Linked DNA regions of Homo sapiens. The protein of the gene in region 4 interacts with the protein of the main gene of each other region in a pairwise test. Each region holds a gene or a part of one and is shown on either strand. Other genes may lie near its edges.

Evidence for each region.
Region 1: the proteins of IFITM3 (region 4) and BRI3 interact in binary tests that used the Homo sapiens proteins (3 or more experiments, as listed by UniProt).
Region 2: the proteins of IFITM3 (region 4) and SLC10A1 interact in binary tests that used the Homo sapiens proteins (3 or more experiments, as listed by UniProt).
Region 3: the proteins of IFITM3 (region 4) and SLC10A2 interact in binary tests that used the Homo sapiens proteins (3 or more experiments, as listed by UniProt).

Annotation. Positions count from the first base shown.
Region 1 is NC_000007.14:98,277,048-98,284,698, reverse strand, and holds the start of BRI3 (membrane protein BRI3), read right to left. Parts: upstream 3,014-7,651; 5' UTR 2,904-3,013; coding exon 2,762-2,903; coding exon of another isoform or gene 2,722-2,761; intron 2,349-2,721; coding exon 2,246-2,348; intron 1-2,245. UniProt on the Homo sapiens protein: Participates in tumor necrosis factor-alpha (TNF)-induced cell death. May be a target of Wnt/beta-catenin signaling in the liver.
Region 2 is NC_000014.9:69,787,240-69,794,266, forward strand, and holds part of SLC10A1 (hepatic sodium/bile acid cotransporter), read right to left. Parts: intron 1-7,027. UniProt on the Homo sapiens protein: As a major transporter of conjugated bile salts from plasma into the hepatocyte, it plays a key role in the enterohepatic circulation of bile salts necessary for the solubilization and absorption of dietary fat and fat-soluble vitamins.
Region 3 is NC_000013.11:103,049,403-103,056,429, reverse strand, and holds part of SLC10A2 (ileal sodium/bile acid cotransporter), read left to right. Parts: intron 1-3,721; coding exon 3,722-3,810; intron 3,811-4,997; coding exon 4,998-5,173; intron 5,174-6,983; coding exon 6,984-7,027. UniProt on the Homo sapiens protein: Plays a critical role in the sodium-dependent reabsorption of bile acids from the lumen of the small intestine. Transports various bile acids, unconjugated or conjugated, such as cholate and taurocholate.
Region 4 is NC_000011.10:319,149-325,434, forward strand, and holds IFITM3 (interferon-induced transmembrane protein 3), read right to left. Parts: upstream 1,713-6,286; 5' UTR 1,666-1,712; coding exon 1,417-1,665; intron 843-1,416; coding exon 690-842; 3' UTR 528-689; downstream 1-527.

The DNA.
Region 1 (7,651 bases), on a different chromosome or scaffold from region 4:
CTCTGGCCAAGCCTCACTCAGAAGGACTAACAGATGTGTGACTTGGGCAAATTCCTGCCATGCCACCAGGCAGGGAGGGGGACAGAGCCCGGCGGGCTGGACCTGGGGCAGGAGGAAGTGTGGTCATGTGAGTGGTATCCTGTCTCCCGGGCCAAGACGCCAGGCAGCGGCCAGACGTGTGTGTTGTGTGTTCAGGGAACCGTCTCCACTCTCCTCGCAGAGAGGAGTGGCCCAGGGACCACACACCCCACCCACGCCAGCAGCAGAGCACCCAGCCCCCTGCTCGCCCTCTGGCTGCCACAGGGCACAGGGGCCCATCCCATGCCCAATGCAGCTGCAGAGGCAAAGCCTCGGGGAGCCAGAGCCACTCTCCAGCATCCAAGGCACCACGGGCAGAGCGCAGGGACGTGTGTGCTGGGAGGGCCTGGCTGCAACCCAAGGGGTCGCCGCAGGATCCAAGAGTGCTCTGGTCCCAACTTAAAGGACTAAGGACCCCCCAACCTTGTCCAGAGAGGACCCAGCCTCCACCCTGCCTGGTGCAGCTGCCCAGAGGCAGAGAGCAGTGATTAAGTAACCAAGGACCCCACACCCCTACAGCCTCTGAGGGCCGAGCCCAAGATCCTTCCCAGCAGAGCACAGTCTGACCCCGCTCCAGGTTCTGCATAACTGGAGAGCACCTCCAGGTTAGCGGAAGCCATGGGCCTCCGCAGGGACACAGTTCCCACCTAGGGAAGGGGAAGTGGCAGGGCCAGTGCCCCCATACCGACAGCAACTGCGCCACCACCTCGGCGCCCCCCAGCCCTGGGATATCTGGCCCATCCCTCGCTGCCGCTGGTCTCTCACCTCTCCAAGTTCAGGGGTTTGGGCAGAGAAGAGCTAAGAGCTTCAGAGACACCTCACCAGACACCCCCACGTCCCAGGTGGGGAAACAAGCCCCGCTGTTCCTGGCAGGACCAGGACCGGAACCCGGCTCCTCCGGCAGGCTGGACACCGGGATGGCAGGGCATGGACAATGACACGCAGGCAGACCCTCTGCTCCTCCATGTTCTGAGTCCCCTCCATGTGCCTTCACACTCACACAGCTCTGCCAGCCCCCCAACCCGGTGCAGCTCCGGGAGAGAACTATGTCCCGAAGGCAGCCAGCGCCCCACCCTGCCCTCCCTCCACCTTCACTCCAAAGGCTAATGTTTCTGCTGGGTGGTGACCAACTGTGTCAAACTGACGTCCCAGTTAGGGTTTGTCACGGGGTCCCTGTGCAGGCAAGCAGCCACAACCTGCCCCCGAGGTCCCAGCCTCTTGTCCCCACCTCTAGGTTGCCCTTCCTTCCCAGGAAGTTGCCTGCTAAGGCTCTGAAATCACTCACTTCCCCGTGACTCCACTCTAGGCCTTACACACACACTTTTGAAATCAAGTCTAAGTCCAAACCAGGGTTTCTTAATTCCATCTCAGTGGCTTCAACTTCCTCCTCCGAGACACAGCTGAAAACCCTGTCCCGGCCAACTCTGCCCCTACTTTCTAAGCAATCTGAACACCCCCAGCTGCCAAGGGTTTATATTTAATTAATCCTTATTTAAATGTGAATCCTCAAAACCTCCACAAAACAAGCCTCTAGCTGCACCTCGGGGCCCTATAAAAACCAAAAAGCGTGTGCAGGTCCAATGCGAGGATATGAAAAAAATAACTCCTGCCTCAAAGAAACACGGGGTTTCCATCCTGGTCCAGCTCGTGGAAGAGCGTTTCAAGCCAACTTTGGATAAAGCAGCTCTTACGGCCGTCGCTTCTCCCACTGAGGTCTGTCCTGCTGGTGCACTTACTTCCAAATGCCCCTTCCGGGAAAATGAAACCTTCCACCACCTTCGACGATCAACTGCAGAGTAAACTTGCGGAAAGTGAAGGAAAAAGCAGACACCTGATTCCTTGCAAGTCCCAGAACAAAGACGAAAGGACCACGAGTCCCGTTGTTACCATTTCTACATCCCAATCACTTGGGGTGCAATGCCCCAAGATCTAGGAAAAGGAATCCACCCTTTTGCCCCCACAAAATGTGTTCAGAGCCAAGGGTGAGCGGACCCGCACTCTCCCACACCGCATTCGGGCAGCCTGTCTGTCCCTCCCATAAAGGGCTCTGGTCAAGATCCAAGTCAAGCCGGACCCACTCCCACAAGCAGAGCTGTGAGGTCCTGGGGGTTAGGGCGGGGGTCCTCAGAGCTTCCAGGGCCAGTCCCCAGGCTGCAGACCCACTCACCTGCAGACAGGACAGCCTCCTACGACCACGATAGAGTTGGCAGGATAGCGGGTGACGGTCCGGCTGTGGATGTTGTAGACCCTGGGATGGTGGGTGGGTATCCCTGTGGGCGGGAAAGCAGGTCATTAGGGTGCAGGGAGGAGAAATCGGACCGCCACGGGGACTACTCATCCTGTCCCCTCAACCTCCACCCCGCTAAAAAAGCCCCCGGTCTTTTCCACCCTCGGGACGGCCACCGCGGGCCTGATTCGGCGCTAATCTGCCAACAGCGAGCGCCTCGTGACACAAAGTTCATCTGGGGCAGGGATCCGGCCCCGCCGGGTTACGACGGGCCCGAGGACTAGAGCCCCGGGGGGGAGGCTGGCCCTCGGCGGCGCCGGGTCCCGAAGCCAGCCCGGGGACCTCCAGCTCCAGGAAGGACCCCCGGGCGGGCCCCACCCGCCTCCGGACCCACGTCCCCCGACCGGGCTTGCCACCTCGGAAGCCGCCGGCGGGGAAAGTTGGTTACGGGCCCACCTGTGACGAGGTAGGGGTAGGGCGGCGGCGGGGGCGCGGCGGGGATGGCGCCGTAGCCGTGCGGGCCGCACGCGTAGTCGCCCTGGCCGGCCTCCAGGTTGTAGGCGGGCGGCCGCTCCTGCAGCAGCGGCTTGTGGTCCATGGCGGCCCGGCCGCGCCCGCCGCTCCGGCCCGGCTCGGCTCGGTCGGCCCCGGCGGGGGACGCGGCGGCGGCGGCGGGGACGCGGCGGACCGGGTGGCTCGGGCCCCTCTGAGGCAGACGCGGGGCGGGGCGGGGCGGGCGCGAGCCGCGGGCTTCCCCCGCCCTCCCGGGCCCAGTCACAAGACCGGGGTCACGTGGGCGGCGGGAGGCGGGGCTCGGGGGCGGGGCCGGCGGGGCGTCTTAAAGGGGCCGCGCCCTCCCGAAGCCGCCCCGCCGGCGGCGCCTCTGCACTCCGCCCCGCCCCGCCGCCGCTGCTCTCTAGACCTCCCGTGGCGGGGAGACCCCCCCCCCCGCCCATCCCCCACGACGACCCAGAGACGCCCCATAGGGTCATGACCTTTAGGGCTCGCGGATGCACCCCCACCTCCCCCTACGCCCCGATCTCCCAGGCCGGCCGAGGTCCCCCTACCGGTGGAGGAGGGGGAGGGCGGGGCCTGAGAGGGGGCGGGGCCGGGTGGGTCCCAGGCCGCCCCAACGCCAGCCCTCTGCCCCTATGATCGCCAGCGCTTCCAGCAATACAAAGGGCACACCCGGGTGTGCACCTCAGCTGCGGCCTGCGCGGTGCTCAGCTGCGGCGCATTCCCTCCGTTTGCCTTTTTTTGGACAATTAGGTGATTGACGGGGGTAGTAGCCAGTGCTTACAAATAACTCCCCCGTTTGGGGACAAAACTATAAATACTGGGCACCTGCCGCGTCTCCTCAGTTTCCCTAATCTTCAGGCAGCCCTGCCAGGTGTTTTGCTTACCCCTGGAGGACAACACGGGATCGGGCTCAGAAGGGGGAGGGATTTGGCTGTGGCAGGTGCGGGTCAGAGCCCGTATCTAAACCTGGGTGTTTTCTGGCCTCGGGGACTGCGTCAGGCGCCCTCGTTGAAACATTTCCTCATACAAGGCTTCACGGGTTGGCCAGGACAACTTTAAAACGAACGATTGGAACGTTCAGGATTGCTTGCGTCCTTAGCGCCTCTGCACCTTTTCAGGGGCACCTGTATCCGTTACTGTATTCTGTCTCCAGTTTTCTCACCTGCATTTTGATATCACCTGCACTGTAGCTCTGGGACGACTACAGCTCTTCTCGAACCGCGCCTTTTTAATTTTTAAAAAAAAAATTTGTAGGGGGTGCTGGGGGGGCTCTCTTGCTCTGTCACCCAGGCTGCAGTAGAGTGACACAGTCATTGCTCAATGCAGTCTCGACCTCCTGGGCCCAAGCCATCCTCCCACCTCAGCCTCCTCAGTAGCTGGGGACCACAGGCACACGCCACCATGCCCAGCTAATTTTTAAAAATTTTTGTATGGGATCTTGCTATGTGCCCAGGCCAGTCTCAAACTGCTGGCCTCAACCAATCCTTTTGCATCAGCCTCCCAAAGTGCTGGAATTACAGATGTCAGCCCCTGCACCCGGCCTTATTTTTATTTTTTAATAAGGGATCATCATTCACATGTATATATACACACACATACATATATATATATATATATATATATATATCTTTTTTTTTTTTTTTTTTAACAGAGTCTCACTCTGTGGCCCAGGCTGGAGTGCAGTGATGCAACCCTGGCTCACTGCAACGTCGACCTCCGGGGCTCAAGTGATCCTCCCATCTCAGCTTCCTAAGTAGCTGGGGACTACAGGTGCACGCCACAGTGCCCAGCTAATTTTTTTTTATATTTTGTAGAGATGGGGTGTTGCTATGTTTCCCAGGCTGGTCTCAAACTCCTGGGCTCAAGTGATCCTCCTCACTCAGCCTCACAAGGTGCTGGGATTATAGGCATGAGCCACCAAGCCCACCTGACCATCATATTTCTTTATCACAAGACCAGCTCTTCGAAGCCCATTCCCATCGATCTTGTACCTGCTGTCCTAGTCATCGTACCCACAGTCCTCGAAAAAGGAACTGAGGGGTGGTCCAGGTACACTAGGGAACTGAGGGGTGGCCCCTGGCACTGATGAACAGCCAGATCAAGAGTGAAGACTGGGCCGGGCGTGGTGGCTCATGCCTGTAATCCCAGCACTTTGGGAGGGTGAGGTGGGTGGATCACTTGAGGTCAGGAGTTCGAGACCAGCTGGCCAACATGGTGAAACCCCGTCTCTACTAAAAATACAAAAATTGGCTGGCCATGGTGGGGGGTACCTGTAATCCCAGCTACTCTGGAGGCTGAGGCACGAGGATCACATGAACCTGGGAGGCGGAGGTTACAGTGAGCCAAGATCGTGCCATTGCACTCCAGCCTGGATGACAGAGTGAGATTCCATCTCAAAAAAAAAAAAAAAAAAAAGAGTGGAGACTGGCCAGGAGTGGCCAAGGGCTTTGGAGCCAGTAGAGGCTCTGGTAGGCAGTGAGGAGGCCATTGTTCCTGGGGGCAGCTGTCCGGGCACCACAGGGTGACAGCCCCTGGCCAGAGAATACTGGGGTGCAGCCTCGTGCCTCATCAACCATGAAGAGATGTGGCTCACGTCAACCCTCCTAACACTTGGTCAACAGGGGCCACCTGGATTCTCCTCCCAGCCTTGCAAACTGCTGAGGAGTAGCAGCTGCAGGCCCGGTGATCTCCTTTCCTATCAGATCAACAAAAGCTGGCACATTTCCCTTCCATTTCATGGCTAATTGTCCCTTCACTGCTTGCCTGCATTTCCTGATAAACCCTACAAAATCCACAGCTCCTGGTCCCCTTCTCTTCCAACAATTGTTTTTGCCCCAGCAATGCCCCTGGGTTTGGAACTCCAAGTCTGTGAATGCTGGGGTGTGACTTTGGGATGTCCCGGCATGGCTTTGACCAGTGCTGCCCTCAGACACAAAGCAGTTCCTGCCCCTCCAAACGTGCAGTGTGCGGAAGATGGAACTGCTATCCCGGGCTCTGTGTGCAAGCCCTGGGGGGCCAAAGAGGACGATGACAGGGACACAAGTAGCAGACAGGGAGCCAGATAGTAACTGTGGTGGAGGGAGCTTTGTATGGCAAGAGGGTTGGAGTTGCCACACACAGGGTGGTGATGAGCCTGGGTGCCTGGAGAGTTCCAGGGCCACAGCCTGGCTTGGAAGGCCAGTGGCGAGTCAGCCCCAGGGACCAGTGGCAGAGCATTCCAGGCAGAGTGAACTGCAATCCCAAAGAGTATACAGTGGCCCATTATATGCCAGGACTTGTCACTTGGTGTGGCCAGAGCCCTGGAAGAGTCTCTAGAAGGCAGAGGTGGGGCTGGCCAGGGGAGGCGGTGCCGGGCATTGGAGTTGGGATAGCATCCTGTAAGAGCCTATTGGGGAACTGCGTAGAGTTTGAACAGGGGAGTGTGAGCATCGGATTTCAGTATTAGAAAAATGTCTTTGAAGGGAGGGGCACAGTAGCTCACACCTGTCATCCCAGCACTTTTGGAGGCCAAGGTGGGAGGATCACTACAGGCCAGGAGTTCGAGACCAGCATGAGCATCATAGCGAGACCCCCCCCAGCCCCCCGCCCATCTCTACAGAAAATTTAAAAATTAACCGAATGTGGTGGCACGTGCCTGTAGTCCCAGCTACTCGGGAGGCTGAGGCACGAGAATCACTTAAACCCAGGAGACAGGTTGCAGTGAGCCAAGATTGTGCCATTGCACTCCAGCCTGGCGACAGAGCGAGACCCTGCCTCAAAAAAAAAAAAAGGAAACTGAAGCACAGAGGGCCTCCATACGTTTCCAAAGCCTCCCAACCAGTAGAGGTGGGTCTTCAAACAACAGATGTACCACACTTAATCCTAGGATCACCCCACACTGCCTCCATGCCAAGTATACAAGAGAAGTATGCCGCCTCTTGCTGGATTTTTTGTTTGGTTTGGTTTTGGTTTGTTTTTTTGTTTGTTTGTTTTTTGAGATGGAGTTTTGCTGTCATTGCCCCGGCTGGAGTGCAGTTGCACGATCTCGGCTCACCAGGCTCACCTCCTGGGTTCAAGCGATTCTCCTGCCTCAGCCTCCCGAGTAGCTGGGATTACAGGCATGTGCCACCACACCCAGCTAATTTTTTCATATCTTTAGTAGAGATGGGGTTTCTCCATGTTGGTTAAGCTGGTCTCGAGCCCCCAACCACAGGTGATCCGCCTGCCTCGGCCTCCCAAAGTGCTGGGATTATAGGTGTGAGCCACCATGCCCGGCCTCTTGTTGGTTTTAAGAGAAATGCATTCCTATTGAAGAAGACTTGGAATACATAAATATGCATATGTTTCGGATTTCCGAAATTCTGCTACAGAGCAGAATACAAAATACAAAATACAGAATACAGAATACAAATACAAAAGTGGATACAGTCCACTTTTGGATTTCTTTCTTGTTTTTTTTTAGAGACAGGGTCTTGCTCTGCTTGCCTGGCTGGAGTGCAGTGGTGCATTCATAGCTCACTGCAGCCTCAACCTCCCGGGCTCAGTGACCTCCCACCTCAGCCTCCCCAAGTAGCTGGGGCTACAGGTGTGCCATCACCACACCTGGCTAATTTTTTTAATTTTTTTTGAGATGGGGTCTCCCTCTGTTGCCCAGGCTGGTCTTGAATTCCTAGCCTCAAGCGATCCTCCTACCTTGGCCTCCCAGAGTGCTGGGATTACTGGAGTGAGCCATTGCGCCCGGCCTTTTATCCACTTTTGTATTATGCAGACATTTATTTTTATTTTTATTTTTTTGAGACAGAGTCTTACTCTGTCACCCAGGCTGGAATGCAGCAGCATGATCTTCGC
Region 2 (7,027 bases), on a different chromosome or scaffold from region 4:
TCCTACTTGTCCAATTTCCTTTTCCATTTGGAATCTTATATATGTTAGTCCCAGGACCCTGTCTAGGGAGAGGCCCTCCAGAAAGGTCAACTGAGAAGGAAGCTGATAGGGCATCTCCTTAGATTTATGGACATTTACATTAACAATATATGGCTCTGACTTTTATTCCAGTGGGAAGATGGTTGGGAGGTGAGGGCTTGGCAAGATCTTAGGAAAACCACACTCAGTGTGTCCCTCCTCCTCCCCACAGCCCTACCCTCCATCTACACTTCTTTCATTATTTCTATAAAGATGGAATATGGCTTAAATATGCATGAAGAGCAGCCTATATCAAAGGTTCCAGAGCGTAGCCATCAAGAACAATAGGTAGGCATGTCATAAGGATAAGAGCTGTTAGAGGTGAGAAGAGTCCCTCAAAGAAAATTGTGAACTAGGTAATAGGAACTCCCCCACCCCCGTGAACACTTAAATACACACTTGAGCTTGTAAGAAATTAACACTCAATTTAAGTGTGGCATAGTGGCTCATGCCTATAATTCCAGCATTTAGGGAGGCCGAGGAGGGAGGATTGCTTGAAGCCAGGAGTTTGAGACCAGCCTGGGCAACAAAGTAAGACCCCTGTCTCTACACACAAACAAATGAACAAACAAACCAAAAACCACACACAAAAATTAGCCAGGTGTGGTGGTGTGCACCAGGAGTCCCAGCTACTTGGGAGGCTGAGGCAGGAGGATGGCTTGAGCCCAGAAGGTTGAGGTTACAGTGAGCTATGTTAGCGCCACTCCACTAAAAAAAAAGGTGCCCACGGACAAGAAACAAATGCAAAGTAGTGGGGGAACTCAAGCTGAAGCTTCATAGAGGGGTTCTGGAGGGGAGTGGGGTGTTAGTCTTGGCACTGTGGAGGCTTTAATGCCCAAGGAAGGGACCAGAATTGAGGTATTAGACCTGGGATGGGAGGAGCATTGAAACTGAGCAACCAATAAAAGGATCATGGGATGAGGGGAGGGGAACTTTCTAATTATATCATCAAATATGAAATCATGGTGGAAACAGTATTTAGAATATAAAAATAATAAAATACATATTTAAAAAACATGGAGAGGGGACTTTGGATTAGGCAATGGTTTCTTAGACATCTAAAGCACGAACAGCCAAAGAAAAAGGCAAGTCAGACTTCATTAATATTAAAAACTTGTGATTCAAAGGACACCATCAAGAAAGTGAAAAGCCAACAAGAGAATGGGAGGAAATATTTGCAAGTCATATATCTGATAAGGGTCTAATATTCAGAATATATATGAAGAACTCTTTTTTTTTTTTTTTGAGATGGAGTCTTGCTCTGTCGCCCAGGCTGGAGTGCAGTGGCGCAGTCTCGGCTCACTGCAAGCTCCGCCTCCTGGGTTCACGCTATTCTTCTGTCTCAGCCTCCCGAGTAGCTGGGACTACAGGCGCCTGCCACCACGCCCGGCTAATTTTTTTTGTATTTTTAGTAGAGATGGGGTTTCACCGTGTTAGCCAGGATAGTCTCGATCTCCTGACCTCGTGATCCACCCGCCTGGGCCTCCCAAAGTGCTGGGATTACAGGCGTGAGCCACCGCGCCCGGCCAATATATGAAGAACTCTTATAATGCAATAATAAAAAACAAGTAAAAAATGGGCCAAGGATTTGAATGAGATATTTTCCCAAAGAAGATATACAAATGGCTAATGAGCACATGAAAAGATGCTCAACATCATTACTTATTAGGAAAATGCAAATCAAAACCACTTTGAGATACCACTTTATATCTACTAGCATGGCTATAATTAAAAAGCTGGACAATAACAAGTGTTGGAGGGTATATGGAAAATTAGGAATCCTCATACACTGGTGGTGGGAAGTAAAATGGTGCTTTGGAAAATAGTTTGGCAGTTTCTAGAAAATTTAAACACAGAGTCACCATATAACCCAGCAATTCTACTCTTAGGTATATATCCCAAGGGAACAGAAAGCATGTTCACACAAAAACTTGCCTGTGAGCTTCCATAGACATTATTCATACTAGGGAACAAGTAGAAACAACCCATGTGTCCATCAGCTGAATGAATGGATGAGCAAAATGTATTATATCCATACAATGGGATATTATTCAATTACAAAAACAAATGAAGTATTGTGACATGCTATCACATGAATGAACCTTGAAAATATGCTAAGTGAAAGAAGTATAGATACAAAAGGTCACATATTGAATGCTTCCATTTATGTGAAATCCATAGAGACAGAAAGATTAGTGGTTGTCAAGGGTTGGAGCAGGAGAGAGAAATGGGGACTCCTGCTAAATGGGATGGAGTTCCTTTTTGGGGTATTGAAAATGTTCTGAAATTAGATAATGGTGATAGGTTCACAGGCTTGGAATTATGCTAAAAACCAAGGCATCGTACAATTTAAAGAATGGATTTTATGGTATGTGAATTATATCTCAATAAATAGTAATTAAAAACCATGCAGGGAGCAAATAAAGCAATTATTAAAGGGCAATTTATAGCCTAACATATTTATATTGAAAAAGAAGATTAAAAATTAATGAGTTAAGCACCTTAAGAGGTTAGAATGAGAAAAACCCAATAAAAAGAAAAGGAAGAAATTTTTTAAGTTTTGTAAATTGTTAGAATCAGTAAAACCAAAAATAGGGTTTTTTTTTTTTCTTTTTTTTTTTAAAGGCCAATTAAATAGGCACCTCTGGCAAGGCAGACCAGGGAAAAGAGAGATGGCACAAATTGATGAGGTTAGTGTGAAAAAGGGAACATAACTACAGAGAAAATGAAGATTTTAAAAAGTCATTAAGGACATTTTCATACTTTCATTTTTAACTTAAATGGACAATTTCATGGGAAATATAACCTACAAAACCAAGTCAATATGAAGCCGAAAACCTGATTCAACTTAGAATCATTTAAGACATTTAATAAGCAGTTCAAAACCTATCTTCTAGAACCCTACATGATTTATACTGTCTTACGGTAGTGTTCTACTAAACATGCAAAGTGCAGATTGTTGCAATATTATGCAAATCTGTCCAGATAATATAAAAAGGGGAAACATGCCCTAATTTATTGTATAAAGTTAATATGATCTTGGAACGAAAGCTGGAGAATGATATTACGAGAAAAGAAAATTGGGGACCACTCTTATTTATGAACATAGAAACAAAAATAATAAAATATTAGCAAATAAGTGTTTTAAAAAATACAATGAACAAGATGAGTAAGAATGATTTAACATTAGATAATCTATTAATACATATTACTATATTATTAAAGAAATGGTACAATTTTGTAGCTATAGAAAAGTCAACAAAATTTAATGTTCTTACATAATAAAAATTTAGTACACTAGCAACGGAATGAAAATTCCTTAACTTGAAAGGAAATCTATTAGAAAAAGTATATTAAACGTTAAACTTAATGGTAAATAGAGGGATTTTCTTTAACAAGAGGAATAAAGCAAAGATAGTCATTATTATTACCTGTTTTATAAATTATACTATATATAGGCCCTAGTAAGCACAGCAAAACAAGAAATAGAAAAAGTATAGGGATGGGAAAAGAAGAAATGAAACTTTCTTGTTTTGCCAATGATAGGATTGTCCACAGAAGAAATCTAAGTAATTTTCCATTATAACTGGTAAGTAAGAAAATGTATGAGGTTCTAAATACATTAGCATCAGTCAGTCAATCAATTGGGTCTGATATACTAGAAACAAATATATATATATTTTAAAAGACACCATTTATGATATTCACAAAACTAGAAAATACTTATACATCTAAAGGACATGTAAGATCTTTATGAAAGAAATTACAAACCTTTATAGAAAGGTATTAAAAAAGGCCTAAGTAAAAGAAAAGCTATATCATATTTATAGATGGGAAGATTCAATATTATAAAGATAGTCTCTCAATTTATATATAAATGTAATGCACATTTAATAAAACTTCCAGACTTATAATTTTTTTTGTAGACTTGAAAGGTGATACTGAAACTCAAGTGAAAGAGTAAAAGGCTAAGAATAGCTAACATGATTTTTTTTTTTTTTGAGACAGAGTCTCGCTCTGTCACCCAGGTTGGAGTGCAGTGGTGTGATCTTGGCTCACTGCAAGCTCTGCCTCCCGGGTTCACGCCATTCTCCTGCCTCAGCCTCTCAAGTAGCTGGGACTACAGGCGCCCGCCACCACGCCCAGCTAATTTTTTGTATTTTTAGGAGAGACGGGGTTTCACCGTGTTAGCCAGGATGGTTTCGATCTCCTGACCTCGTGATCGGCCAGCCTTGACCTCCCAAAGTGCTGGGATTACAGGCGTGAGCCACTGTGCCCGGCCCATGATTTTCAAGAACAAAGTAGGGGGACTTAACTTTCAGATAACAAAACTTATAAAATTGTAATTAAGAAAGTGTGGAACTGGTACAAGGGTAGCCACATAGACCCGTAGAAGAGAAGAGAGATCCAGACACAAGCCCTGCATTTATGAGAGAGATGTCATTACAAATACCTGGAGAAAAATTCACTCAACGTGGCTTGGAATCTTCTATTTGTATGGAAAAGATAAAATTAGTTCATGCCATACATAAAAATAAGTTCTACATTGATTGGAGCTCTCCATGTGAAAATCAAACATTTAAAACTTTTCAAAGAAAATACAGGGTAATATCTTTGTAACTTTGTAGACAGTAAATTTTTTTTTTTTTTTTGAGACAGGGTGTTGCTCTGTCGCCCAGGCTGGAGTGCAGTGGCATGATTTTGGCTCACTGCAACCTCTGCCTCCTGGGTTCAAGTGATTCTCATGCCTCAGCCTCCTGAGTAGCTGGGATTACAGGTGCACATCACCATGCCCAGCTAATTTTTTTGTATTTTTTAGTAGAGACGGGGTTTTGCCATGTTGGACAGGCTTGTAGATAGTAAAAGATTTCTTAAAGAAACCCCTAAAAAACATAAACCACAAAGGAAAAATATTGGCAAATTTGACTAAATTAACATAAGCAATCTATCAGACATTATTATCAAAGTGTAAAGACCAGCTCCAAACTGTGAATAGACTGTTGCAACATATATAAAACAATAACTTTAGAAATTAATTTTCAAAACCCACCCAAACCACAATCCCATAGAAAAACAGGCAAAGGACCCAATGTTTCCAGAAGAGGACACATGAATGGCCAACGCACACGTGGAAATGTGGTAGGCCTCCCATGAAATCAAATTTAAAACTACTGCGATCTGCTTCACTGTTTTCATTTGGAAAAAATTAAAAAGTCTGACAATTCCAAATATAGATGAAGGCACAGAGAAACAGGGATCTTCAGACACTGCTAGGGAACGTGTGAAGTGAACAATGACCTTGGAGACCTCTTAAAGATGTGTGACTCCCACGACCCAGCAGTCCTGCTTCAATTGCATATGCCCTCATGTGGGCAGAGGGACACACACAAGTCTGTTCACAGAAGCGAGACGTAAAATCCACATGAATCTGACAACAGGAGAATGGATAAATGCAAGCAAACTGCACAGCAGTTCAGATACATGAGGTAGCTATTTTCTTTACATGCCTATTTCTCAAAAAAAAAAAAAAAAAGCAAGCTGTTAGGTGATGTGGACAGTATAATACTGTTCGTACAAAATTAAAAGACGTAAATCCCGCAGTCTATCTTGTTTATGAATATATACGTATATAATAGTTGAAAAGGGTCGGTGGAAATGCTGAACACCAAATTCCCAGGGATGCTCCCTTTGGCAAGTGGTGGAGGGTAATGAGATTGGGAATAGGAATACAGGGGGTTTCAATGCTACTGTTGATCTTCTCTTAGGGAAAAGCCAAACACAACTTGTGTGTTTGTTCTGGTGACCTAGAGCAGAGGAATCATGCTTACTTTGGCTTGTGTGTCAGGAGTTTTGGAGTTTGGACTTGGTGTGCCTTGTCAGCTTGGGTATGCAGGAGCCATGTTCCCTGATCCCCAGGTACTTCCTCCACTTGCACAGGTCCTGGGGTCAGGTCAGGGACATCCATCTCCTAGCCTGCTGGCATCCGTGACTGTTGTGATCCTTGGTTTACCCCAAGGGACAGGGACGGGCAAGGACTTTTTCAGACTCTAGATTCCTGAGATTGTAGGCCTGGTTGCCTTTCAGGGGGAAAGGGGCACATTTGTTTTTTTTATTTTTCCCTCCTGCTTAAGTTCCAAGAGCACAGCATAGACCTTGCTTTTGGACATCTGTGTACCCCATTTAAGGGACTCGTTCGAGTGTCCGTCAATGCACAGATTGGAGGCAGAAGCTGAGGGAGCTGTGAGGGGCCTCAACACAGTCTCTATGAAGTGGAAAACTTCTGGGACCCCAGTGGCTTCCATCTTGTCCTGGTTGAGCTTCCTACATCATGGCTGGGAGACCTGTGGAAGTGCTTGGGTTGTGTCCAAGCCCATTGTCCCCATGGCCATTGGCTCTGGGCTCTGCTGTGAGTCCGATGGTGGCAGGGGGAGCAGATGAACTTGGGGCAGCAAGGATGGTCAAAAGAGGCCAGTTCCTGCTGGCATAGCACTCTCTTCTCTGTGCCTGACAAGCCATACTCACTTCAACTGTGAGGGCGTTTTCTCTTGCCTGTTTGTCACCTACATTTTTTGAAACTTGTCTAGTGGCCTTCCTTGAGGAGGGAGCTGCCGTCCCTGGCTGCATTGAGGGGTCTGCTTGGTGGCCTGGCCTCCTGGGATGGCAGGCTGTCCCCAGACTGACTCCACCTATGAGGCAGAGTGAGTGGAGGGAGACACAGTTTCCCACAAACTCTGGGAAACCTCTGGCAAGTCTCTGACCTCAGCCTCTTCATGTGTAAAATGGGATCTGTGTCTTACAATTCCTTCCAGTTCTAAATGGGATGTAGAGTATTGTGCTTATCTCAAACTGGGGCCTTTGGGCTACAGCTGGCCCTTTGACATGTATTGTTTGGTTTGCACATTTAAAAAAATGGAATGAGTTGCTGATTTCACATAAAATGGATATTTTA
Region 3 (7,027 bases), on a different chromosome or scaffold from region 4:
GTGAATAAATTTTGAAATAAGGAGAAAATGAAAAATCAATTAGCACTTCAATGGAGGAAAAGGTCATCATAAGAGGTCAAGAGTGAAAAGAAAAGAAAAATAGGAAAAGAGAAAAGAAAACGGAAAAAGAGAGAAGTTTGAAAAACAAAGATATTGTTATATGTAAAATATTTATTCAGAAACAGAATACTTGTTCCTCAGTACCACAAGGAAAAATGAGCATTCAGACAAAAAGTTTTCTCAGCAAGGCAATTTTACTTTCTGCAGAAAGAGTGCTCCTCACAGATGGCACAATGGTGACAGCACACCTGAACAATGGAGGGAAGTAATTCGTATCCCTTATGCAGCTTGTCCCTGCTACTGTGTCCTGTCTCCATTGGCTGGAGCCAGACATCACAATCTAAGCTAAAACCTGACTGGCTAATAATTTAAAACTTTTCTAAATAGGTATAGGCAATAGACAACAAAGGAAAAGAGGACGTTGCTTGTGAAAGGACTTAGAAAAGTAATAATATTTCCAAATAAGGAAGGGGCATAGGCTGCAAGCTGGAATGTACCTGTGAGCATGTTCAGCATAAATATCTTGGTTAAAGTACAAGGACATAGAATGTACTTATTCCTTTATATCTAACAGCTACATAGAATAGGGCTTAACAAAGAGTTACTAGCACAAAGTAAGGGGGCTTGAAGAAAGTTAGTCTTTAAAAGAAATTATTATTTCTAATGTTTATTATTATTATTATTTTCCTTTAACAACAAGGGACACTTTGAAGAGGAAACTTTTTACTTTCTACAGATATTAACCCTGCTCACCATGTTTGCCCAGGCCTCCAAGCTCACCTTTTTGCTGTTGGTTTTTCTAGTTCTTTAACATAGAAAATAAATGAACTGACTGCTTCACAAGATGTTATCACTGCTTTCTAAATTGTGGCTCAGGGTGATTATTTGCCCAAGGTCACCAGGAAGCTGGAATAGCCCACAGTCTATTCTCTACACAGCTCTATGGGCAGACGTGTTTGGTACAACTTCATGCTCCAGTGATTCAGTAAACACCTGTGAGCCCCCTCAGATGCTGACATCTGGATCGAGAGGAGGCAGACCATGCAGCTGGTACCACTAAAATAAAACCACTGCTGCAAATTGTTGTACTTACTCCTCTCTACCCCACATTTTTAAGTGTCTTGTGCCAAGAAGTTTATAGCCATTTCATCATTTAATTCTCACAACAGCACTGTAAGGCAGACATAACTCCACCCATTTTACAAATGAGGAAACAAAAGCTCAGAGGGGTTCAATGATTTGCACAGTTCCCACAGTTTGGGAATACAGAAAGGTTCAGTTCCAAATCTATCTGGCTCCCAGTCCCACCACATGAATCCATTCACCACCACTCTCTTTCATTCTCATTCTTCTTTCTACCTTTCTTTCCTCTGATATCTACTGTGTAAACTTGATTAAAGACCAAGTTATGGATTCAATGTGTAACCATGAGTGGATGCTTTTTCATCTACATAGACAGGCACTTTACAGAGAGAACATGGGCATATGAGGCATACGTAAAACAAACAGAGCATGGGGAAAGAAAAGAGCAAGATCACCAGCCCACTGGAGACCAAAGTTACAACATCCACCTCTACAAGCAGAAGCCACACACTGTGGGTGTAAAGAAAGACAGAGTCCCTTTCCCAGTCAACCCCAGGTCCCTGAAAAACTTCATCTGGCCTCATCTGGTCAGGAAAGAAAAGCAATTCTGCCATGGATTTCAGCAGGTGGTGCTGCTTATGTGTTATCCCGTTGGCTTGGGCTGCCTCAAAAAGATGAATACTCTTAGCAGGAGGGGCCAAACAGATTCAGCACATTAAAATATAGGACCAAAACCTAACCACACTAACATTCCAAGCACAGGACTTGCAGCTAGATTTAAGCTACCACATCACAAACAAGTCATATATCCAGATGGTTTTAAGACCTACAAACTTCAAAAACTTAGGCAATGGTCTAAAGACCCAGGAGAGGGAGTTTCCTTCTTGTATTCATCTGTTCTCTCATTGCTATAAAGAATTACCTGAGACTGGATAATTTATAAAGAAAAGAAGTTTAGTTGGCTCACAGTTCCACAGACTGTACAGGAAGCATGGCAGGGGAGGCCTCAGGAAACGTACAATCATGGCAGAAGGGGAAGGGGAAGCAGGCAGCTTCTACATGGCTGGAGCAGAGGAAGAGAGCAAAGAAGGAGGTGTGCACACTTATAGACAACCAGATCACATGAGAACTCACTATCACAAGAACAACAAGGGGGAAGTCTGCCCCCCACAATTCAATCACCTCCCACCAGGCCCCTCCTCCAACAGACCCGTCCTTTAGTTGTAATCCTCCAACTGGGGATTATAATTCAACATGAGATATGGGTGGGGACAGAGAGCCAAACCATATCACTCCCAAAACAGCAGGATGCAAGGATACCCAAGGGGGGTTTTTCTGGGGCATCTCAGCAGTACGTGTGTCAACGCCACTCTTTCACATCTTTTTTTCCATTATTCCCTCCTTACTCCCCCTCATTTATCTTTTTTTTTCCTACTCTTAGTACCCTTAGTCATTATTTAATTCTGCTAAGTAATTTCTGGGCAAAAGTCATCACTGACCCTTATATTGCCAGGAGGGCTAGAAGACTACAAGGAAATTATGTTTTCATCATTATTGCATTCACTTTAAATTAATATCTATAGCCTTGGATTCCAGAATCTGTTTTCTAGTCCTAGTTCAATCTACCTAGTTAATCAATACTAAGCAACATCCACTCTCAGAATTTCACCGTTCAATATCACTTTCTTATACTGCTTTAAAAGGATGTTTGAAAAAGAAACAACCTATGAAAAGTTAGAAGTTGTTGGTGCTAAATTATATGAAATCAGCTATTGGACAAATGAGTGTTAAATAACATGGAGAAACAAACCACATGTCGCAAAAACAGCAGTAAATTTAACATGGTGAAATTGAAGTATGACTCTTTTATCTGGCCAGGTGAGCATGTTACTGCAAAGAACTATAATTACATGAGAGTTCGTCAAATATATTATCTCATGGAAAATTTAAAGCACGCTTTCTCAACTTTTGTTCTCACCTCTCTGCTGTAAATTTGAATAGCTAAAGCTAGTTTTAACCAAAAGTCAGATGTCAGAATACCTGGTGATCTTGAGCTAATTTTGGACATTTTCTTTCATTTTAAAATATTTTAAAATTATTTTTTATTTCTACTACCATGAACTAGCAGACAAATGTAAAATGTCATCTTTGTATGCCATACACACACACACACACACACACACACACACACACACACACACACACCTTGGTGAGCTATTTTTCCTAGAGATATAAAGATCCAAAGACTAAAGAAGCCAAGATTCTGACAAATTAAAACTAATGTATGCTGGCAAAATAAGAAACTCTAAAAAATTAATGCAGAATTTAGTGAAAGAATTTACAGCATTGATATTATCAATTATCTACCAATAATATTAAATTATTTACTGGAGTGGGTGAAGAAGTTGAGTGAGTGTGTGTGTGCATGTGTGTGTGTGTAATTCTGTATTCTGTTTTGTGTATTCAAGAAGGAAGACTGAAATACCACCTAATCTTTCTTCAGGCTGCTTGTTCTTCTGTTTTTCTCTTTCCTGTGTCACCTGTTCTGCTGATCACATTGCCCTTCTGTCATCTTTAGGTACATCTCTGGTTTCTCTCGTTGTTCCTGTTTCCATTGGAATGTTTGTTAATCACAAATGGCCCCAAAAAGCAAAGATCATACTTAAAGTAAGTATCCCAGTTCACACCATTAAATATTCCACTGTGACAATCAAAACCATAGGGTTTTCCATCCATGAAATGGTTTCATTCTCATTATATGATTACTGTTGAGTGGGGGCCTGAAGTCATTAGCCATGCAGTCTTCTCCTTTAGAATGTCCTTCTTTATATGTGTGTAGAGAGAGAGGTGGGATCTCACTATGTTGCTAATGCTGTTCTTGAACTCCTGTGCTCAAGTGATCCTTCCAAAGTGCTGGGATTACAGGTATGAGACACTGCGCCCAGCCTAGCATGCCCTTCTTTATTGCAGTCACAGGAAAAATTTCTACCCATTCTTTAAGACACTCCACTGAACTATCACCTCTTGGGTTTACTCTATTCTGTCCTCAGGGCATATTACTGTTATCTCTGTTATGTGAGTTTGTGTTATACAATATATCTAAATGGCTTTCTTAGAAAATAGAACATATCTTTCTTATGTCTGTATGCATATGGCCATTTCATTGCCTGGCAATCCCATTCACTAACTATATTCTAGCTAGATGATCTGGATATGTATGTAGATAATATAGATAGATTCTGCTGCTCGGGGCAAAGTAAGTCCATTGTATTCCTTGCTTCTCTTGACAAAAAATGTTTATAATCTCCAAATTTTGTTTTAAATGTGAAAAGGAGAAAAAAAATAACAACAGTGGTTTTCATTTGCTTATACCTTTTTTAAAGTTGTATAGAGTTCTATACCCATTTTCTCATTATCGTAACAATCATAAAGGGAAGCTGGGGCGACATTTTATCCCCAATTACAAATAAAGAAACTACAGTTCAGAAAGTTCCTGATTTACTGAAGGAAACAGAATAGGAGTAGTTGAATCTGGAAGCCAAATCTTCCAGGCTGTCATCGAAATGGGTTGTCTTTTTGTTCTGACAAGGATAATTTTCAAGTCAGAAAATCTTCAGACTAATTGCAAATGGTTGCTACATGTCCTATTGTGTTCTTAAAGCTTAAAGCATGGGACAAGCGTCAGTATTTCCAGTGGGCTGATTGCAGCCTCCTGGCTTGGAGTACATAGAAAGACAACTTTATCATCACTTCCCCCAGGGACAAGGAGACTGCTGAGGTTTTGTCTCTGACAAACATACTTGGATTTGCTTTGACTCATGATTGCTGGGTTCACTTATTCCTTTTTTTTTCAGATTGGGTCCATCGCGGGCGCCATCCTCATTGTGCTCATAGCTGTGGTTGGAGGAATATTGTACCAAAGCGCCTGGATCATTGCTCCCAAACTGTGGATTATAGGAACAATATTTCCTGTGGCGGGTTACTCCCTGGGGTTTCTTCTGGCTAGAATTGCTGGTCTACCCTGGTACAGGTATGGCATTTAGTAAATCACATTGGGAATTTTAATCTGTAATATCTGTTGTATTCCTTTGCTAGAGGTGCCATAAGACAGAACCACAAACTGAGTGGCTTAAACAACAGACACTTATTGTCTCATGGTTTCAGAGACTAGAAGTGAAAATGAAGGTGTCACTGAATTGATTCTTTCTAAGGGCTATGATGGAGGGATCCCTTACTGGCCTTCCTCGTGGCTTGCAGACATCCATCTTCTTCCTGTGTCTTTCCTCAGTGCACCTCTCTGTGGCCTGGCTCCCCTTTTGATAAGGACACCAGTCATTGGATAAGGGCCTCCTCTAATGAACTCATCTTAACTAATTATATCTGCAATGACCCTGTTCCCACATAATGTCACATCCTGAGGTGCGGAGTGTTAGGACTTCAACATATGAATTTGGGGGAAAGGGAGACATAATCAATCCATAACAGCTGCAAACACTGAAGACAGGATCAAAATCCTTAGCCCTTCATCAATCACATTCATCCTATTTCTGAATATGTCATTCTAAATAGGCCCATTCATTCTGAAGTCATGCAAGTCCCCAGAAAGAAAATACTGACTGCCTCTTTTTTGCTCAAAGTCTTCTGGACCATTCGGCTTACAAGGCAGATGGGGCTCTTCCATTGCTAAGTATTCTTATTCTCTGAGTGGAATGACATTAATGAAAGCAGTTGGGCTGCCTTGGAATAGACAAGCGTTCCTCCAGCTGGCAGCAGGGTGAGCTCATCCTCCAAAGGCGCCGAATATTAAAATGGGTTTCACACTTCTGGATTTGGTACCGGGCAAAAACAATTCTTTTTGACTAATCCATCGAATCCACAGGCAGAGAGAACACAGGTGTAGGGACAGATGCATGTATGAAGTTGGGAAAGAGAGGAGTGGGTATGGGCAGCAAGAAGAGCGCAGTGTTTGAGTCAGGCAGACCTGGGCTTGCCTTCCAATCCGACCACACACTGCCCGGGGGACCTCAGGCCCAGCATTCACTCTTTCTCTGAGTTTTATCATCTGTAGAATGGGGACAATAATTTCTACCTTATAGACTTTCTGTCAAGATTTAAACACAACAATTTTTTATTTTTATGAGACAGGGTCTCATTCTGTCGCCCAGGCTGGAGTCCAGTGGCACAATCATAGCTCACTGAAGCCTTGGCTCAAGTGATCCTCCTGCCTTAGCCTCCCGAGGAGCTGGGACTACAAGCCCACACCACCTTGCCTGGCTAATTTTTTTGTTTTGTTTTGTTGTTTTAGAAACAGGGTCTCATTATGTGGCCCAGTCTGGTCTTGAACTCCTGGACACCTGGGCTCAAGAAATCCTCCCACTTCAGCCTCCCAAAGTGCTGAGATTACTGGTGTGAGCCACCTGTTTAGCCCAGCCTAAACAAAACAAATTAAACAATAAAACAGCGACAACAAATACCATATCTTGAGCATTTTCTGAGCTGCTGCCCTGTGCTCTACACTGTTACCAAAATCATAATTGAAAAGGGTGAAATGAACCCTCTTGGCCACTTACCTAACACTGTGGTAAATGAGCCAACTCTTCATATGCACATATTAAATATATTTATTTATATTATATACAATAGGTGAGATGATGTATAATATACATTAATAAGTATTACACTTATTCCATAGAAAGTTATATATTGAATAAGCCTATCTTAAATACATGCATTAAAAGCAGAGACATAATGCATATATATGTACTTATTATTATATCTGCTTTTCATGTTTCACAATAACAAAACTACTAAAACATGTGCTCTCTTAACATCTTCTTTAGGTGCCGAACGGTTGCTTTTGAAACGGGGATGCAGAACACGCAGC
Region 4 (6,286 bases):
CCCTCCCACGGGCCCTGAGCTGCCCACATCTGCAGGACTGGCTGCTCCAGACAGCTCGGAGGCAGGCAGCGCGGTGCCCCCTCCACCCCGAGGAACTAAAGCCAGGTCCCCAGCACCACAGAGCAGGGCCTGGGAGCAGCTGGGGAGCCGGTGCCACCTTGCCCCTCCCTGGCCCTGCTGGGGGCTTAACCCTTCCCTCTGTCCTGAGCCGACAGCCTGGATTGCCGACAGGCCGCGAGCGTGGCCTTGGGCCCAGGGTGTCCCGGACTCAGCACTGACGTTCCCGGAAAGAGCCCACGTTGAGTAGGAGCTGAGACCTGCAGGACACAGGAACTCCTCCCAGGGTCCTGGATCCAGCTGCTGCTCACGGCAGGAGGCCCGAAACCAGAAGGCCTGAGCACTTGCCCGGTCCCCAAGAGATGCACAGAGGCCGGAAGGGGCAGTGCAGGGGCTGACCAACCTGCTCAGTCTCAGAACCACGCTCCGAACCCTCAGCCAGACCCCTCCCCAGGTGAAGTCGCAGCAGCACCAGAAACACGTGCACTTTATTGAATGCCATTGTAGAAAAGCGTGTGAGGATAAAGGGCTGATACAGGACTCGGCTCCGGGGGCAGGGCGAGGAATGGAAGTTGGAGTACGTGGGATACAGGTCATGGGCAGAGCTCCTGGCCTCAGTGATGCCTCCTGATCTATCCATAGGCCTGGAAGATCAGCACTGGGATGACGATGAGCAGAATGGTCATGAGGATGCCCAGAATCAGGGCCCAGATGTTCAGGCACTTGGCGGTGGAGGCATAGGCCTGGGCCCCGGTCACGTCGCCAACCATCTTCCTGTCCCTAGACTGGGGGAGAGGAGATGGTGAGGGGACCAGGATCCCCCAGCTGAGAGCCGCGTGCTATGGCTCCGTCTCCTCATTGGCTCTCCCCGCCCTGAGATCAGGGACCACCTCCTCCCCTTCCTCACCCGGGCTCAGACTCTCCAGGAGCCTCGGGGCTCATCCTCCTTCTGCCTTGACCTCAGCACAGGCTGTTCTCCCCACCATGGGGTGAAGTCACCTGTGAGTTCCCTTCTCACTTTCTGGGAGAGCCTGGGTGCCAGTCTGGAAGGTGAAGGTGTAATTTCTTACTGGGCTATAGGGAGAACTGCTCTGGGCTAGTGGATAGCCGGGGACAGACTCTGAGCCAGCCAGCCAGCCTCCTGGAGCCTCCTCCTAAACCTGCACTGGGCAGATTCCCCAAGCCACACACACACACAGATCACACAGACAAAGCCACTGACGTGGGCACACACGGGACAGAGGTGCACACAAACTCACAGTCACAGGGACACACAAGTCCCCACCCCAGGCAGCATGTGGGCAGGTGGAGCTCCAGGCTCAGCGGCACCCTCTGAGCATTCCCTGGGGCCATACGCACCTTCACGGAGTAGGCGAATGCTATGAAGCCCAGGCAGCAGGGGTTCATGAAGAGGGTGTTGAACAGGGACCAGACGACATGGTCGGGCACGGAGGTCTCGCTGCGGATGTGGATCACGGTGGACGTCGGGGGAGCAGGGTTGTGGGGCGCCCCCAGCACAGCCACCTCGTGCTCCTCCTTGAGCATCTCATAGTTGGGGGGCTGGCCACTGTTGACAGGAGAGAAGAAGGTTTGGACAGTGTGATTCATGGTGTCCAGCGAAGACCAGCGGCGGTCGGGTTACTGGGATGGTTCTCAGTGAGCCCTCCCTTTCCCCAGTAGTTTCGGTTTCTCAACAGTTTCCTTTTCCTGGCATTTGTCAAATCGGGATTTGGCCGGGGCCAGATGAGGGCGGAACAAATTCCTGAGGATCAAATTACTTTAGGAGAGGGAGGAAAGAGGGGCTGAGGGCTAAGAGGGGCTTCCTCTCTAGAGCCCAAGGGAGCACAAGGCTCATCTTGTTAGTGGTGTGGGGTCCTGGAGACTTCCCCTGTGTTGGGGGTCTCCACACCCCAGGCCAGCAGCTGCAGGACCCCACTGTCCCGGTTCAGGGCTCCTGCCAGGCCTGCGCTGACGCCTCCACACTCCAGGCCCCACAACCGTTCCCCCAAAGCCCTCACCTCTGCCGGGCGCCGCGGCTCACGCCTGTAATCCCAGCACTTTGGGAGGCTGAGGTGGGAGGATCATGAGGTCAGGAGATCGAGACCATCCTGGCTGACACGGTGAAACCCCGTCTCCCATAACCCTCACTGTGGTGCCCAGGCAGCTGGATTATCCCATTACCTTCACTATGGTGCCCAGGCAGCTGGATTATCCCATTACCTTCACTATGGTGCCCAGGCAGCTGGATTATCCCATTACCTTCACTATGGTGCCCAGGCAGCTGGATTATCCCATTACCTTCACTATGGTGCCCAGGCAGCTGGATTATCCCATTACCTTCACTATGGTGCCCAGGCAGCTGGATTATCCCATTACCTTCACTATGGTGCCCAGGCAGCTGGATTATCCCATAACCCTCACTGTGGTGCCCAGGCAGCCGGATTATCCCATTACCTTCACTATGGTGCCCAGGCAGCTGGATTATCCCATAACCCTCACTGTGGTGCCCAGGCAGCCGGATTATCCCATTACCTTCAGTGTGGTGCCCAGGCAGCCGGATTATCCCATTACCTTCAGTGTGGTGCCCAGGCAGCTGGATTATCCCATAACCCTCACTGTGGTGCCCAGGCAGCTGGATTATCCCATTACCTTCACTATGGTGCCCAGGCAGCTGGATTATCCCATAACCCTCACTGTGGTGCCCAGGCAGCCGGATTATCCCATTACCTTCAGTGTGGTGCCCAGGCAGCCGGATTATCCCATTACCTTCAGTGTGGTGCCCAGGCAGCTGGATTATCCCATTACCTTCACTATGGTGCCCAGGCAGCTGGATTATCCCATAACCCTCACTGTGGTGCCCAGGCAGCCGGATTATCCCATTACCTTCAGTGTGGTGCCCAGGCAGCCGGATTATCCCATTACCTTCAGTGTGGTGCCCAGGCAGCTGGATTATCCCATAACCCTCACTGTGGTGCCCAGGCAGCTGGATTATCCCATTACCTTCACTATGGTGCCCAGGCAGCTGGATTATCCCATAACCCTCACTGTGGTGCCCAGGCAGCCGGATTATCCCATTACCTTCAGTGTGGTGCCCAGGCAGCCGGATTATCCCATTACCTTCAGTGTGGTGCCCAGGCAGCTGGATTATCCCATAACCCTCACTGTGGTGCCCAGGCAGCTGGATTATCCCATTACCTTCACTATGGTGCCCAGGCAGCTGGATTATCCCATAACCCTCACTGTGGTGCCCAGGCAGCCGGATTATCCCATTACCTTCAGTGTGGTGCCCAGGCAGCTGGATTATCCCATAACCCTCACTGTGGTGCCCAGGCAGCTGGATTATCCCATTACCTTCACTATGGTGCCCAGGCAGCTGGATTATCCCATTACCTTCACTATGGTGCCCAGGCAGCTGGCGTTCAGGCCTGCTCAGGCGTCTCATGACCTTCACTGTACTTCTTAGATAAAACAGAATACTTGAAGTCACTAGTTACAGAGAACAGGAATCTATAAACTCATTCCAAAAACAAAGGAAAATTTGTTTTTTCTTCTCCCTGTGTTAAGGGAGTGCTGGGAGAGTCTCAGAGCACATTAGATAATATTATCAGGACTTTTCCTGGGTCTCAGCTGTGTCTGCTGCTGCCTCCGGGACGAGTCAGCCTGATACAGGAAAACCTATTTCTCTTTCTTTTTAATTTTAATTTTATTTAATTTCCTGCCTCATTCCCTTCCCCTCTGAGGCCTTTTATTGTTATTATTTATTTTATTTATTTATTTTTTTGAGTCGGAGTCTTGCTCTGTCGCCCAGGCTGGAGTGCAGTGGCACGATCTCGGCTCACTGCAAGCTCCGCCTCCCAGGTTCACGCCATTCTCCTGCCTCAGCCTCCTGAGTAGCTGGGACTACAGGCGTCTGCCACCACACCCGGCTGACTTTTTGTGTTTGTAGTAGAGACGGGGTTTCACGTGTTAGCCAGGATGGTCTCGATCTCCTGACCTCATGATCCGCCCGCCTCGGCCTCCCAAAGGGCTGGGATTACAGGCGTGAGCCACCGCGCCCAGCTCTTGACAAAATTTCTTTAGCAGCTGCTTGAGTGTCCAGTTCATGCATTCCACTTTACCTGAGCTCTGCAGCCTGTAAGCTGTATGTAATTTCCACTTTATTTTTAATAATCAAGTTAAGTCCTGAACTATTTCAGCCATAAATATTGGGCTATTGTCTGATCTTAGAGTTAGAGGCAGTCCAAATCTGGGAATAATGTCTCTTAACAACACCTTGGTTACTTCTAGTGCCTTCTCTGTCCGGGTGGGGAAGGCCTCAACCTCCTGAAAAGGTGCAAATGAACACCCACGTGCACTGATAACCCCCCTCTCAGGGTACTTCCTCGAAGTCCGTACCACAGTTTTTCACAGGGTATGGCTGCCTGGCTCCTGTTTCCTGAACTCCTGGGGGCCGAGTAGGCCCTTGTCATGCATTGTTCTGAGCACGAATTTAACACCATTTGTTTACAAATGGCTCGAGTAATAGCAGTGAGCCATGGCACATAGAAATGATGCCTTAACAGGGCCAGGCGCGGTGGCTCACGCCTGTAATCCCAGCACTTTGGGAGGCCGAGGTGGGCGGATCACAAGGTCGGGAGATCGAGACTAACACGTGAAACCCCGTCTCTACTAAAAATACAAAAAAAATTAGCCGGGTGTGGTGGCGGGCACCTGTGGTCCCAGCTACATGGGAGGCTGAGGCAGGAGAATGGCGTGAACCTGGGAGGCGGAGCTTGCAGTGAGCCGAGATCACGCCACAGCACTCCAGCCTGGGGGATAGAGCGAGACTCTGTCTCAAAAAAAAAAAAAAAAGAAATGATGCCTTAATAACGTCTTTAGTGCTGGTTTTTTGGGTTTTTTTTCCAGTGGAACTGTTTTACAAATCTGAGGGCCACCATTCCAGGTATGGCTAGCCTCCCGTTGGAAAATTTTTACCATCTTTCTTCAATGTAGTTCTTATTCTTGTGGGCAAACCAAGACTTTTCGTTTGGAGGGGACCTTGGGATCCCCAGGAGGGGAATCTCCGGGAGCGGGAGGCATAGCTAAGGCTTCCTCTCTAGAAGGTGGAGTTGTCGTTGCAGCCCGTTTGCCTCTTCGTCTGCCTTTCTGCTTTGCTGCTTTTCGGGGCCTCCTGCAGCGCATCACTGCCACCTCTTCCAGGGCCCACACAGCGTTTAACAGAGGTGGAATTTCCTCCTTATACTTTGTTTTTTCACTTCCAGCCGTTAAAAGTCTTTTATTCTTTGTAAACAGCCTCATGAACATGCAAAGTGGCAGAAGCATATTTGGAATCTGTGTAAATACTTGCCTTCTGCTCTTTTCCTAGCCAGAGAGCTCTTGTCAGAGCTATTAGCTCTGCTTTCTAAGCAGAAGTTTCTGCAGACAGAGACGGTACCTCTACTGCTGAGTCCAAAGTCACCGCGGCATACCCAGCTCGGCAGACTCCCCTTAGTACGAAACTGCTTCCATCAGTAAAATATTCAATGTCCAGGTCCCCGAGGGGCCAATCTGTTAAATCTTTCCAGCTTGAGAACACTTTATCTACCACGTCCACACAGCAATGAAGGGGACTTCCTGTGTAGGGTCCAGCCCTACGGGGGCTTAGCGGGTGTTCTCCCCGTGTGCAGAGACAAGAGATCGTAAGAAATAAAGACACAAGACAAACAGATAAAGAGAAAACAGCTGGGCCCAGGGGACCACTACCACCAAGACATGGAGACCGCTAGTGGCTCCGAACGGCTGGCTGCGCTGATATTTATTGAATACAAGACAAGGGGGCAGGGTACGGACGGTGAGTCGTCCAAGTAATTGATAAGGTGAAGCAAGTCACGTGATCATAGGACAGGGGGCCTTTCCCTCTTAGGTAGCCGAGCAGAGAGAGAAGGCAGCATACGTCAGCGTTTTCTTCTATGCACTTATAAGAACAATCAAAGACTTTAAGACTTTCACTATTTCTTCTACCGCTATCTACTACGAACTTCAAAGAGGAACCAGGAGTACGGGAAGAGCATGAAAGTGGACAAGGAGTGTGATCATTCAAGCACCACAGGGAGGGGGTTAGGCCTCCGGATGACTGCAGGCCAGGCCTGGAGAATATCCAGCCTCCCACAAGAAGCTGGCGGAGCAGAGTGTTCCCTGACTCCTCCAAGGAAAGGAGACTCCCTTTCACGGTCGGCTAAGTAACGGGTGC